Linked DNA regions of Homo sapiens. The protein of the gene in region 2 purifies or fractionates together with the protein of the main gene of each other region. This does not show direct contact. Each region holds a gene or a part of one and is shown on either strand. Other genes may lie near its edges.

The links.
Region 1: the proteins of XXYLT1 (region 2) and CLYBL purify together in Homo sapiens (affinity purification with mass spectrometry; one large-scale study listed by BioGRID and IntAct). This does not show direct contact.
Region 3: the proteins of XXYLT1 (region 2) and GOLGB1 purify together in Homo sapiens (co-immunoprecipitation; one large-scale study listed by IntAct). This does not show direct contact.

Annotation. Positions count from the first base shown.
Region 1 is NC_000013.11:99,608,367-99,613,189, reverse strand, and holds part of CLYBL (citramalyl-CoA lyase, mitochondrial isoform 1 precursor), read right to left. Parts: intron 1-4,823. UniProt on the Homo sapiens protein: Mitochondrial citramalyl-CoA lyase indirectly involved in the vitamin B12 metabolism. Converts citramalyl-CoA into acetyl-CoA and pyruvate in the C5-dicarboxylate catabolism pathway.
Region 2 is NC_000003.12:195,066,195-195,071,029, forward strand, and holds the end of XXYLT1 (xyloside xylosyltransferase 1), read right to left. Parts: intron 3,918-4,835; coding exon 3,521-3,917; 3' UTR 2,090-3,520; downstream 1-2,089. UniProt on the Homo sapiens protein: Alpha-1,3-xylosyltransferase, which elongates the O-linked xylose-glucose disaccharide attached to EGF-like repeats in the extracellular domain of target proteins by catalyzing the addition of the second xylose.
Region 3 is NC_000003.12:121,701,242-121,706,064, reverse strand, and holds part of GOLGB1 (golgin subfamily B member 1), read left to right. Parts: intron 1-3,469; coding exon 3,470-3,584; intron 3,585-4,823. UniProt on the Homo sapiens protein: May participate in forming intercisternal cross-bridges of the Golgi complex.

The DNA.
Region 1 (4,823 bases), on a different chromosome or scaffold from region 2:
TACTATGAATACTTTAGAAAACAGAAACAGAGTATCAACATAAGAAATGAAAAGAGATTACAGGTATCAGAAATCTTGCAAAATTTGCTAGAGGGAATTAAAACAATCCTTAGAGGGAATTTTGTTATTATTATTATTATTATTATTATTATTATTATTATTATCATCACTATTTTTAATAGAGCTTTGCTCTGTCACCCAGGCTGGAGTGCAGTGGTATCATCACAGCTCACTGAAACCCCAAATCCCCAGGCTCAAGGAATCCTCCCACCTCAGCATCCCAAGTGGCTAGGATCACAGGCATGAGCCACCACATCCAGCTAACTTTTAAAATTTTTTTTGTAGTGACAGCATCTCACTATGTTACCCAATCTGGACTTGAACTCCTGGCCACAAGTGATCCTCCCACCTCAGCCTTTCAAAGTGCTGGGATTATAGACATGAGCCACCAAGCATGGCTGTAAAGTAATTACTGAGTGCTTATATTTAGAAAGTAGACCCCGGATGGGTGTGGCGGCTCACATCCATAATCCCAGCACTTTCGGAGGCCAAGGTGGGTAGACTGCTTGAATCCAGGAGTTTGAGACAAGCCTGGGCAACATGGCGAAACCCCGTCTCTCCAAAAAATACAAAAATTAGCCAGACATGGTGGCTAATGCCTGTAGTCTCAGCTACTTGGGAGGCTGAGGCAGGAGGACTGTTTGAGCTTAGAATGTGGAGGTTGCAGTGAGCCAAGATTGCATCAGTGCACTCCAGCCTGGGTGACAGAGCAAGACCTTGTCTCAAAAAAAAAAAAAAAAAAAGTAGAAAGGTCTAAAATTAATTATCTAAATTTCCACCTTAAAAAGGTAAAGGGTAAATTAAACCCAAAGTAAGGTGAAGGTAGGAAATAATAAAGATGAGACAGAAATCAATGAAATAGAAAACAAAAAAAAGAGAAAAATCGATAAAACAAAAAGATGGTTCTTTAAAAAGAGCAAAATAACTCAAGCCAGGTGATAAAATAAAAAACAGAGAAAAAAGAATTACAAATATCAAGGATGAAGAAGGACACATCACTATGGATGACACAAACAGTAAGGAGATGACAGACTAGAGGCAGGGGTAAGGATTAACTGCAAATGGGCTCAAGAGAATTTGCGGGATGATAGAAATTTGGAGGGGGGCCTAACATTGGACTGTAGTGATGGGCCTATAAACTTACTAGAAATTATTTAATCACACACTTACAAAGGGTGAATTGTGTGGTATATACCTTTGTAGAGCTGTAAGAAAAAGGATAAGGAGTCAGCATGAACAACTCCAGGCACGTGAATGTGACAACTTAGATGAAATGGACATAGTCCTTCAAAGATACAAACTACCAAAGCTTACTCAAGAAGAACTAGATAATCTGAATGGCAATATGTCTATTAAAGAAACTAAATTTGTAGTTTAACACTTTTTCCACAAAGAAAACTGCAGGTGCAAACATTTACAGGCAAAATCTTACCAAATTTACACAAATTGTTTCATGAAATAGAAGCGGGAACTCTCCAACACATCCTATGTGACCATCACCATCCTAATACCAAACCCAGACCAAGGCAATATCAGAAAACTATAGGCGATTATTCCTTATGAACACAGATACAAATAATTTTAACAAAATTTTAGCACATGCAATCCAAACAATACATCACAATCAGTGGGGTTTATTCCAGGAATGCAATGGTCAGCTTAACTTTTAAAAAGTCAATCACTGTAATTTACCGTATTAACACACTGAAGAAGAAAAGCCTTATGATCAACACAACAGATGCAAAAAAAAATTTATAAATTCAAATCCACTCGATCAAAACTCTATGCAGGCTGACTTCAGCAAAAACTACAGAAAAAGGACCTTTGAAAATCCTATCCTCCATAAAATCAACAAGAATATTGGCAAAAATTGTCAGAATAAACTTTTTCAGAATTCTAGAAATTAAAGACTTGCAGCAATATAGGGATCATTTATTCAAGAAAAATGTATGAATCTCAGTAAGAACAGCAATTGTCGTGGGGGTTTAGTTTACCCTATCCCTCTTCCCCAGCTCTGTGGTAGACTTGAAAATCAATAGCCCCCATCACAGTGAAAACCAGCAGCATGGCAGCCACTAGAGGGGGAAAGCCCCATTTCTGGAAAATGTCACTATTTGACCTGTCTTGTGGTTCCTTGGAAGACCCTACTTGTAAAACTGTCTTTAATTGACCTGACTCAGAGCTTGCACAGTGGGAACAGTATTTTCCCGGAGGGCATTTGTCCAAACAATCAGAAGTACTTATTTACCATCACAGCTACTTGAGATGGAAGATAACAGGGTAAACAACAGGCTAACCAAAACACTTAAAAGGCAAAAATGGAGAACAAGATACCCATAGAGAGCTCTGAAAAGTTGTGACATGTTCCTGAGACTCTAGGAGGCCACGCACATGTGCAGGGCTGTATACCGGCTAAGGAAAGACCTTAAGTGCTCATGTCTAGCTAACCTTCAGTCTCTGTGGAAGCAGGACAAACTGTGGCTGAATGTTGAAGACATGTCCTGACACACACAGAGTCCCTCAGCAAAGACTAGGAGACTTACTGGTTCCAGGAATTTAAGGAAACCTTTGTCTAATTGTTAGACTACTAAGCTAACCAAGCAGAGACCTCGCTGGTTGCACATGACAAAGAATACAATGCAGAATTAGTTTATTAAAGTCACTAAGCAAACAACAACAACAATAAACCCTGGCAAAAGGGAGAAATCTGATTTCCAGAGTTGCCCCATTATATTACTTAAAATGTCCAGTTTTCAAAAAAATATACAAGACATGCAACGAAAAGAAAGTATGACCTATACACACAGGAAAAAAGTAGTCAGTACAAACTGTCCCTGAGGAAGTCCAGATGTTGGACTTACTAATTAAATCATCTATTTAAAGTATGTTCAAAAAACGAAAGGAAACTATGCATAAAGAACTGAAGGAGTCCAGGTGCAGTCGTTCATGCCTAGAATTCCACTGCTTTGGAGGCCAAGGCAAGAAAATCATTTGAACCCAGCAGTTCAAGACCACCCTTGGCAACACTGCAAGACTCTGTCTCTTCAAAAAATTTAAAAATTAGCTGGGCATAGTGGTGTGTGCCTGTAGTCCCAGCTACTGGGGAGGCTGAGGCAGGAGGATCACTTGAGCCCAGGAGCTGCAGGCTGCAGTGAGCTACGATCTCACCACTGCACTCCAGCCTGGAGACTCCGTCTCTAAGAGAAAGAAAGAAAAAAAGAACTAAAGGAAAGTATGAGAACGATGTTTCAGTACATAGAGAATATCAATGAAGAGATAGAAAGTATAGAAAAGGGCCGGGCATGATGGCTCATGCCTGTAATCCCAATACTATGAGCGACAGAGGCAGGCAGATTGCTTGAGCCAAGTTCGAGACCAGCCTGAGCAACATGGCGAAACCTGATTTCTACAAAAGAATAGAAACAATTAGCCAGGTGCAGTGGTGCACACCTGTAGTCCCAGCTATTTGGGAGGCTGAGGTGGGAGGACAGCTTGAGCCCAGGAGGCAGAGGTTGTAGTGAGCCCAGATTGCACCACTGCACTCCAGCCTGGGTGACAGAGTGAGACTCATTCTCCAAAAAGAAAGAAGTTCTGGATTAAAATGAAAATGATTTGAGTTGGAAGACGGAGCAATCAGCAAACCTAAAAACAGGTCGGCTGGGCACGGTGGCTCACACCTGTAATCCCAGCACTTTGGGAGGCCAAGGCAGGTGGATCACGAGGTCAGAAGATCGAGACCATCCTGGCCAACATGGTGAAACCCCGTCTCTACTAAAAATACAAAAATTAGCTGGACGTGGTGGCGCGTGCCTGTAATCCCAACTACTCGGGAAGCTGGAGCAGGAGAATCGCTTGAACCCGGGAGTCAGAGGTTGCAGTGGGCAGAAATTGCGCCACTGAACTCCAGCCTGGTGACAGAGCAAGACTCTGTCTCAAAAAAAAAAAAAAAAAAAAAAAAAACAAAGACAGGTCAATTGACATTGTCCAGCCTGAGGAACAGAAAGAAAATGGAACAGTCTCAAAGACCTGTGGGGTTCCATCAACTACACCAACATATACGCAATGGGAGCCTCCGAAAGAGAAGAGAGAGATAAGAGAGTAGACTTTTTTGAGAGAACAATAGCCAAAAACTTCCCAAATTTGATGTATACACATCCAAGAAACTCAATAAACTTCCAAGAGGATAAACTCAAACAGATCTACACACATCATAATAAAACCACCGAAAGACCAAGACAAAGAGAAAATCAAGCAAAAAAAAAAAAAAAAAAAAAAAAAAAAAGACTCATCACTTACATAGAACCCTAATAACATTAACGTCTGAATTCTCATTAGAATAATGGAGGCAAAAAGACAGTGCGATAATACGCTTTAAAATGCTCAAAGGAAAAAAAATGCCAATCAAGAATCCTATATTCAGCGGGTAGACATGTCGAGAACAGACCAGTGTGCTAAGGCGGGTGAGGAGCACTGAGTTAACCCCCAGCGTACTGGCGTGGGGACTGTGTGCGCTCACTGGACCCGCTACTGAACAGGTCACAGACGCTGGCCCCCTCAAAAGGCGCCAGAAAAGGACCCTTCTGGACCAGCCTGGATACACTGCCTGAGCTGCTCCTCTAGGGCGAGGGGTGACTCCCCTGTGCCAGGGGCAGCGGAGGAAATGGGAAAGTGGGATGCATAAGACTAGGTGGGTCCTCCCATAGGACATGGGTGACTGAAGAGTCACAGTGCAAGAAGACGTAAGAAGTTCAGACCCAGGCCGG
Region 2 (4,835 bases):
GATCTGTCAGTGGGCTGGGGTGTGATCTGTGGGCGGGCTGGGGTGCCTGTGCAGTGATCTGTCGGCGGGCCGGGGTGTGATCTGTGGGCGGGCTGGGGTGCCTGTGCAGTGATCTGTCCGCAGGCTGGGGTGTGATCTGTCGGCGGGCTGGGGTGTGATCTGTGGGCAGGCTGGGGTGCCTGTGCGGTGATCTGTCGGGGGGCTGGGGTGTGATCTGTGGGCGGGCTGGGGTGCCTGTGCGGTGATCTGTGGGCGGGCTGGGGTGCCTGTGAAGTCATCTGTCGGTGGGCCGGGGTGTGATCTGTCGGCAGGCTGTGGAGTGATCTGTCGGTGGGCTGGCTGCCTGTGTGGTGATCCGTCGGCGGGCTGGGGTGCCTATGTGGTGATCTGTCAGCAGGCTGGGGTGTGATCTGTCTATGGGCCAGGGTGTGATCTGTTGGTGGGCTGCAGTGTGATCTGTCGGGCTGGGGTGTGATCTGTCCGCGGGCCGGGGTGGGATCTGTTGGTGGGCTGCGGTGGGACCTGTCAGCGGGCTGGGGTGTGATCTGTCAGCGGGCTGGGGTGTGATCTGTGGGTGGGCTGGGGTGCCTGTGCAGTGACAGTCTGCTGTGCACTGGGGGGTTGGAAGGTCGAGGCCACTGGTGACAGAGGGGAAGCTCCTGAGAGGTTTACTTAAAAGTAAATGAGGGATGTTGTTTGGCCTTTGCCCATTTTGACCAACCAGCTTATTGTTTTTTTCTTGCAACAACAAAATACACACATAGCTATAGACACATTTTAATTATAGAAAGGATTGCAGGGAAAATACCTTTATTATTGTGAGTCTAAAATTCTTTAGCCTTTAACTCACTTTTTTCCCGTTGAAATAATTGTTTTTTTAATGTGGTGTTTGAAACACCTATGTTTTTAGAAGTTGAAATACAGCAGAATAGATGCTCTTTTTATACATACGTGTGTGTGTAGGTATGTATCTATACACACGTGTGTACACTGATATACATACACATATATGTAATTTTAAAAATAGGATCGTATTAAACATATGATCTTACATTTTGCATTCTTTATTTAATAGCACATTCTAAGTATTTCCTGAGGCATTACATATTCTTCGAATAATGCCTCAAGTATTCTGTTATATGGATGAAGCATATTATTCATCTACCTATTCCATTCTTTTTTTTTTTTTTTTTTTTTTTTTTTTAAAGACAGACAGAGTCTTGCCCGGTCCCCCAGGCTGGAGTGTAGTGTCGTGATCTCAGCTCACTGCAGCCTCTGCCTCCTGGGTTTGAGTGATCCTCCCAGCTCAGCCTCCTGAATAGCTGGGCGTGCACCACCATGCCCAGCTAATTTTTGTATAGTTGTAGACACTGGGCCTTGCCATGTTGCCCAGGCTGGTCTTGAACTCCTGGGCTCAAGAGATCTGCCGGCCTCAGCCTCTGAAAGTGCTGGGATTACATGTGTGAGCCACCGCGCCTGGCCCCTCTTTTTCACATTTTAAGTTGCTTCCAATTTTCTTCTACTATAAAAAATGTGATAAACATATAGTATATGACTCTGTCCACATCTCTCACATTTTCTTACAGTCGACTTTAGACATAATGACCTTCATGAAGTTTTCATAAACATTATCAATAGCGTAATAAATCCCCCAATACAATGGCTGGTGCACAGCAGGCATTCAAGAATTGTTACCTATAAATAGGAAATCAAGTAGGTGAGAGAACAGACCAATTCTGTCACAGCAGAGGGCTGGGAAAGATATCTGCTCCACCTCTTCAGGGCAGGATGTAACTGGGCAGTCTAGGGTAAGAGGGATGAGAAGAAATGGGGATGCTTTTGCTCCCCAGTGCAGGTGGACCTGCCAATACCTAGAATGAAATGATTCCTTGCTTTGAACCAAACATGCCAATACTACCCTCTCTGACACCCTCTCAGATGTGCCCTCTCCTTGGTCCTTAGGATCTCCTGTAAGCACTCATCTTCATCAGGGGAGGTGGGGATTCCAATGGCATTGAGTACACACTTGATTCAGAGCCTTCATGCAGCTGAAACTGTGATCAGAGAACAAACAACATGAATCACCATGTTCTCAAAGATGATTTATTGGCTATCCTCACTCATGGGAAAAAGAAAAACGTAAATGAAATCAAAACAAAACAAGATGAAAATTGATACAAATGGACCCCTGGGGCTTTCACGTCTGCAGCCTACGTACAGGAGGCCCCATCAAAAGAAATGACGCTTTAATTTCTGCTAAGGTCTACGGTCTAACGTGGTATGATAAGGGGATTTTTTAAACAAAGAAACTAGAATGCTTACTAGCCCATGAGTGACATGTCTTCCAAGCCCACATGGTCACACTTGGGAATTGCTGGGTTCCTTTTTGGTTTTTTTTTTTTTTTTGAGATGGACGTCTCACTCTGTCGTCCAGGCTGGAGTGCAGTGGTGTGATCACAGCTCAGTGCAGTGAACTCCTGGACTCAAGCCACCCTCCCACTTCAGCCTCCCAAGTAGCCGGGACAACAAGCACAAGCCACCACACCTGGCTAATTTTTAAAATATTTTGTAGCGATGGGGGCCTCCCTGTGTTTCCCAGGCTGATCTCGACCTCCGAGGCTCAATCGATACCCCCACCTCGGTCTCCCAAAGTGTTGGGATTACAGGCTTGACGACTGTGCCCGGCCTGGGCTTTTTGGAATGAGTCTTCCTGGTCCCGACAGTTCTCCTGCATGTCCTTGTGGTGGCCAGTCTCTGTTCTTTGATGACGAATTTGCTTTCTGAGTAGAGTCTGGTCACCTGGAGCTGGTTTGGTGGAATAAAGGACAATGGGGTTCTAGGATGTAGCTGGGAGATACAAGCTGTGAGTACTCTAATAATGAGATAAGTTTTCTTATGCAGGCCCCAGTTGGTCCTGAAGTCCTTCCTCAAAGAGGCGATCCTGAAACCTACACCAAGTGACGTGAGCATCAGGAGAATGCGCGTGCAGCAGCCTCCCAGGGTGAGTATGTGATGGGCTGGCATTCGTTTGGAAGCTTAGATACTGGGCTGGTCATTAAAACCTTGGCTTACCTTACCCGTTTGGGGCTCGATGGGTGCTAAAGCAGTTCTGTTTGTACTTTCTCGAAAAATGGAAGGCTGTCAATTTAAATTAAATTTATATTGGTCCAAAAAAGGCCGGGTCTAAAGGATTTCCATTCCTCAGAGGCAGACAGCAAGGGGGACCCTTTCTCCCCTTCCTTCTCTTCAAGTGCTTGCTTCCCAGCCCACTGGACATGCGTGTCCTTTGTGTCGCCTGCTCCCTGGAGGAATAAGGTCCCAAGCACCAGCAGTGCACAGGCCAGTCCTTGGCGGGTGGCCTCAGCACAGTGACCTGCCCGGCAGGAGGTCTCAGCACCTTAATCACAGGACTTCCCTGCGGTGTCTCTCTAGCGGGTCAGACACTGCCCTTGGGTCTGTCCCAAGGAACCCTGTCCTTCCCCCAGATCTGGAGGCCCCGGGGGCAAGGCACGGGGAGCGCCTAGTCCTCCGGGATGGGAGTGTTGCAGTTCCCGTGGTAGATCTTGACGTGGCCCTCACACCTGAAATAGGCCTCGAAGACGTCACTGTAGCCATGGTCCCTCCACCAGGTGCACAGCTGCCGGTTCCAGGTACAGTCCAGCACATGGAAGAGCTTGGGGTGCTCCATGCCGATCATGGTGAAGAAGTCCTGGTCCCCGAGGTGGCCGCGGAAGTGGTACTTGTCGGCCAGCTGCTGCACCTGCGCCGGCTCCAGCAGGCGGCTGTAGAGCGGGGACTGGCGCATGGCCTCCAGGTTCAGCAACATCACCCCGCTGTTGAAGCCCGGCAGCCCCTCGGGGGGCGGGCCCCCAACCCGGGTCTGGGGGTTCTCATGGCGGAACTGCCAGAATGTGTGCCTGTGGAGAGAGAGGACAGAGTTAGTCCGGTGTGCAGGGGAACCAGCCTGCCGGCCTGCTGCCCTGGGTCTTCACAGCCAGCCTGCATGCAAACACTGCCACATTCCGGGGTGCAGAATCCGCATCACTACACCAGCAAGTGGCAGAGCTGGGACCTGAACCCAGGGCTCTGGACCCCAAGCCTCAGATTCTTTCTACCATCCTCTGCTACGTCCTCACCACAGCCAACATTGATATTATTGACTGAGGATGTACCAGGCGCCATACTAGACCGGCTTACTTACTCCCCACACAACCCCAGGGGATGGGTGCTCTGAGATGATACATCATTTCACAGCCAAGAAAACGGACGCACAGAGAGGTCAAGGTATTTGCCCAAAGTCACACACCTAGTAAGCAGCAGACGCAGGGACTAAACCCAGACAATCTGGCTCCAAAGTCCACATTCTTAAGATAGCAGCAATCTAGGTAGAACTTTCCACCCCCTTGTCTTCACCTGTGATCTTGAAAAGGAGAAGGGAGAGAGAAGCAGGGGACACAATCCTGAACAGAGATCTCATCAAGACGCAGGCAGCTGAACCCTGACTGGAACAGAACTGTTTTCTGCTTTAGAACAAGGCTCATTCATTGAGCCCCAAGCCTGGCACTTCAGAAAGGCTGGGCAGGGGCTGGGGGCCTGCGACAGCCCAGGGCACACCATGGGTTAGGGTGAAAGACAGCTGTAGAAGAGCCATGTAGGATGATGTCTACTTTAGAAGGAATGTCACTTCAAGTTCAATTTTTCTCTCAGCAGATTTAGAAACCAATCTAGGTTCATAGTTCAGGGAGTGTTAGCCTCTTCTAGGTCCTCTACCCAAATGCTTCCATCTGGAGGGGAGAAGAAAGACCTAGACACCTCCCTGTGAGGGCCAGGGTTAA
Region 3 (4,823 bases), about 73 Mb from region 2:
CGGGGTTCAAGTGATTCTCCTTTGTTTCTATATTTGTTTTGTTAACATATTTTGGAGCTTTTTTTATGCGACTCAGTTAAATTCTTTGAAAAAAACTTGGTCCTTTCAGATCCTGCTGCTTTGATTTGTTAGGAGGGTTCGAATCAGTGCTCAGTCATTCGATACTCCTGAGGCAAGACCTTGCTGAGTATTCTACTCAATGCCCTGAGAAGTGTTTTTTCACATTTGGCTATATAACTGACACTTCCGGGTTTTGTGTGAGCACCAAGTGCTATTCTTTAATCTCTTCAGATAGGTAGGGGTAGTTCAGATAGCCTTGGATGCTTTCCTCACATTCATGTCCTGCCCTGTACTTCACTGAACACTTGTTCAGTCCCTTTGCAGATCTGCAGGGTTTTCTCTTTACGTGACTTTTTCCCATCTGGTATTCTATTCTGCGAACTGCAGCCATCTTGCTCTTTCTTGACTGTCAGCTCTGTCTCATGAACTTAGGGAGTCTACCAGGCTCAGCCTATGTTCCCCCTTCTTGGACCACAGCCTGAAAACTCTCTTAAGGCATGAAGCTTGGTCAGTTTTAGGGATCACTTTGTTTTCTGCCTCTCTCAGAGATAATTATCCTTTGTTGCTTGATATCCAGTATTCTGAAAATGATTATTTATTATTTTGTCTGGTTTTGGTTGTTATTGTTTCAGGTAGGAGGTTAAATCTGTTCCATGTTACTCAGTCTTTAGCAGAAGCAAAAGTCATCTATTGGGTATTGAGCTGTATCTTTTTACAAAAATTTTTTAAGTGGTTATTCTAGGAAGTATAACATATATCCATAATTTTTCAGTCTTCTTGAGTTAATACTGTACTACTTCACTTAAAAGGTAGAATCTTCATAATCATATACCCTCACCCTATTCCTGATGCCACAGTTGTTGTATGTATTATATTAACAAAAGTAATAAGCCTCAGCACACAATTTTAATATTTGTGCTTAAAATGGTTATATATATTTGAAAGACATTAAGAGGAAAATATTGACCTTAACATTTATCCACATATTTACCATTTGTAATGCCCTTTCCTCTCTGATGATCAGATATCTATTTGATACTGTTTTCTTCAGCCTCTACAACAACCTATAATATTATAGTATAGGTCTGTCTGTGAAAAAATTTTCTTAGTTTTTTTCTTATCTAAAAATGTCTTTATTTTACTTTTATTCTTGAATGATATTTGCTACTGGATATTATAATTCTCGATTGACAATTTTTCTTTCAGAACTTTTTTTTTTTTTTTTTTTGAGATGGAGTTTCACTCTTGTCACCCAGGCTGGAGTGCAATAGCACAGTCTTGGCTCACCGCAACCTGTGCCTCCTGGGTTCAAGCAATTCTCCTGCCTCAGCCTCCTGAGTAGCTGGGATTACAGGCGTGAGTCACCACGCCTGGCTAATTTTGTATTTTAGTAGAGACGGAGTTTCTCCATGTTGGTCAAGCTGGTCTTGAACTCCCAACCTCAGATGATCCACCTGCCTCGCCCTCCCAAACTGCTGGGATTATAGGCGTGAGCCACTGTGTCCAGCCTTTCTTTCAGTACTTTAAAGAAGGTGTTTCCCTCTTCTGGCCTATATTTTTTCCCTAACAATTGGTCAGTAGTCATTCGAATTATTGTTTCTCTGTATGTAAAGTATCATTTTTCCATGGAAATTTTAAGACTTTCCTTTTATCCTTGTCTATGAAGTACTTAGTTATAGTTTTCTTTGTCATTTTCTTGCTTGCTTTTGTTGAGTTTCTTACGTATATAACGTTATGTTTGAGAAATTTTTGGCCATTTCTTAAAATATTTTTTCTTCCCATTCTGTCCCTCGTCTCTTCTGGTACTCCAATTACACGTATATTGAACCTTTTAATATTGTCCCACATGTCCCTGAGGTTGTATTCATTTTTTTTTTCAATTTTTTTTATTCTTCTGTCTTCAGATTGGATAATTTCAGTTGATTTATCATCCTCAATTCACCAAGACTTTCTTCTGTCGTCTATATTCTACTGTCAAGCCTATCACATTGAAATTTTCATTTCAGATATTATGTTTATTAGTTCTGGAATTTCAAACTGGTTCATTATTTTTTTTTGTTTGTTTTACTAAGATTTCCTTTCTTCTCATTCATTATGAGCATATTCATTTATGTCCTAAGCATAGATATAATAGCTTCTTTATTAAAATTCTTGTTTGCTACTTACAAAATCTGCATCATTTTATGGCTAGAATCTGTTGATTATATTTTTTTTCCTTGAGAATGGGTCACTCTTTCCTATTTCTTTATGTGTGAATGGTTTTGTTTTGAATTCTGGATGTCGTGTTTTGTTCTCAAGATTTTATTTTGTTATTTCTAAAATTTCAATTACTTTTTATCAGACAGTAAGTTGGACTCAAACCCCAAACTCTGGCCTATGATAGAGAGGCATCAAAACTCAGTTCAGTTATTTTTGCCTTAGCTGGGCTGCTTTAAGTCAGTCCAACAAATACATTGTGCCATTGTTCAGTCAGAAATTTCAGCTAAGTTTATACACAGAATTCAGGGCTCCTCCTTCCTAACTCTTTTTCTTCTCTCTGATCTCCCTCCTCACATCCTGGCAGCTATGTTTGTCCCAAACTCTTCTCATTCTTCAAGCCAGAAATATCTGTGGCTATTCTATTGGAATTTTACTTGCCCTGCATACTGCAAACTGGGAACTTCCCTCAAGATAAAAGCCATAAAAACCCTAAATTCATCCCATGCTATTTATTTTAAACATTGAATGAAGATTTCGGGGTCAAATATGCTGTAAAGACCCTCATGGCTTAAAAATTCTACAATTGTATGAAAATTTTATAGAATAATATCCATGGAGAATAAAAAATATATACAAAGACATAAAACTAAAGATGTGACATAATTAGATATATGCCTATCCTTAGGAAAACCAAAAATTCTGGATGTATAAATTAAGCCAAGGGAATTTTTATTATACTTGGAAAACAAAAAACAATTTTATAAATCTTCTTCCTTTCTTAAGAGGTACATATTCCTTTGCCTCTATTCCTCTTTGTGGAACCTCTCTTCATGTTCATTCTCCTTCAGGAGAGAGACCATGTTACTTGGTGACATTAATCTAATCTTGTAATACTATTTGTTTGTGAACCTGAAAATGTTCTTTCTTATGCTATAGACTTGGGATTTCTATCTTTGTAATCCAGGCTTCAATCTTAAATTTAAAAGCCAATGAACTTGATATTTGTGTGAAATATTTTATTTCTTTTTCTAAATCTTTAGATAAAACACTTTTCTTCAAAGATTACCTAGGCAGATAAGTAGATGTTATTTTTAAAGTATTTTCATGGCTGGAGAACTTCTAGAAGACAAAAATGCTGGAGGCTATCTGGGCGTTAGTGTGAGAATTTTCTGCTGGAGAATCATTAATTTGTTGTCTTTCTACAATTTAGGCAGTCACTGAGGAGAATATTGCTTCTTTGCAGAAGAGAGTGGTAGAACTAGAGAATGAAAAGGGAGCCTTGCTCCTTAGTTCTATAGAGCTGGAGGAGCTGAAAGCTGAGAATGGTATGTATAAAAGAAAACCATAATTCTCTGTCTTCTTATCCCACAAGTGCCTCTACTTTTATCACTAATTATGTATAACATGTAGAATTCTCTGATTCCGTGATAATAAAGATTTAGATAATAGAGCTGGTAACTATCAAAGATAATACACATTAAACAATTAGAGCATAGTATCAGTGTTTACATAAGTATAACATTTTGCAATATGGACTATACATGCTGCAGGATTTCTTTATAACTCATAATCATTTTGGAATGGTCATCGTATCCTATAGGAAGTATGGCTTGAACAGGACCTTAATAAGATGATTTTTAAAATAGGTAAAATGAAGAAAGAAAGGACATTCTGGTAATAAATTTGTGGGATGAGGTAACAGAGATCAGTATAAAGGTTTAAAGGTAGAAACTATGTTGTGAGTGAGTGGTTTATGCTCGTGCTGTACCCTGCTTAGAATCCTGCTCCTTTCCTTTAGTCTGGATGATTGTTACTCATCTTTCAGGCCTCGACTAGCATATTATCTTTTTCAGGAATTTGGTATTGGTCCCCAAAAGTTGGGTTAAATGATTTTTTTGTGCTTCCATAACATCCTTGTATACTTTTAACATTGTATTAAAATGATCTGTTTATATGTTTGTCTTTTTTACTATATTATAAGCTCTTCAAAGTTTAAATATAAGCTCTTCAAGGGCAGGGGCCATTTTTTTTTCCATCTTTGCTTTACCCAAAACTAGTATACCACCTGGCAAATAATGGCTACTGAATAAAGTTTTGTTGGATTGAACTGAACTTAGCATTTTATCCTATTGGATTGTGTGTGAACAGTTAGTGAGAATGAAGACGTGTCTCCTTCCACTTATCATATGCTTCATGTAGACTTTATGGATTTAGTAGCGTGTCGTTAATGCTTTATTGATCTAATTCATCTTTAACTGACTACTACACTTTATCATCTAGGAGTGAGAATGAATAGCAAGTAAAGGTTGTAAAACTTTTATTAAACTCTAGAGCCAGTATTTCTAACTTAACCATTTTACAGTTTTCCACTTAGATCTAAATGGAAGCTTATGCACTTGTATTAGACGATTCCCACTATTTCTAATAAGTAAAGAACACCACAAATTCAGCTCATTATTTAACCCATTCAGAGCACTTCTTTGAGACCTTATCCATGATGCTTATTTTGCAGTTTTGCAAACAGTCTGTATCCTATCCATGTGGCTTCACATGGTTTGGAGGTA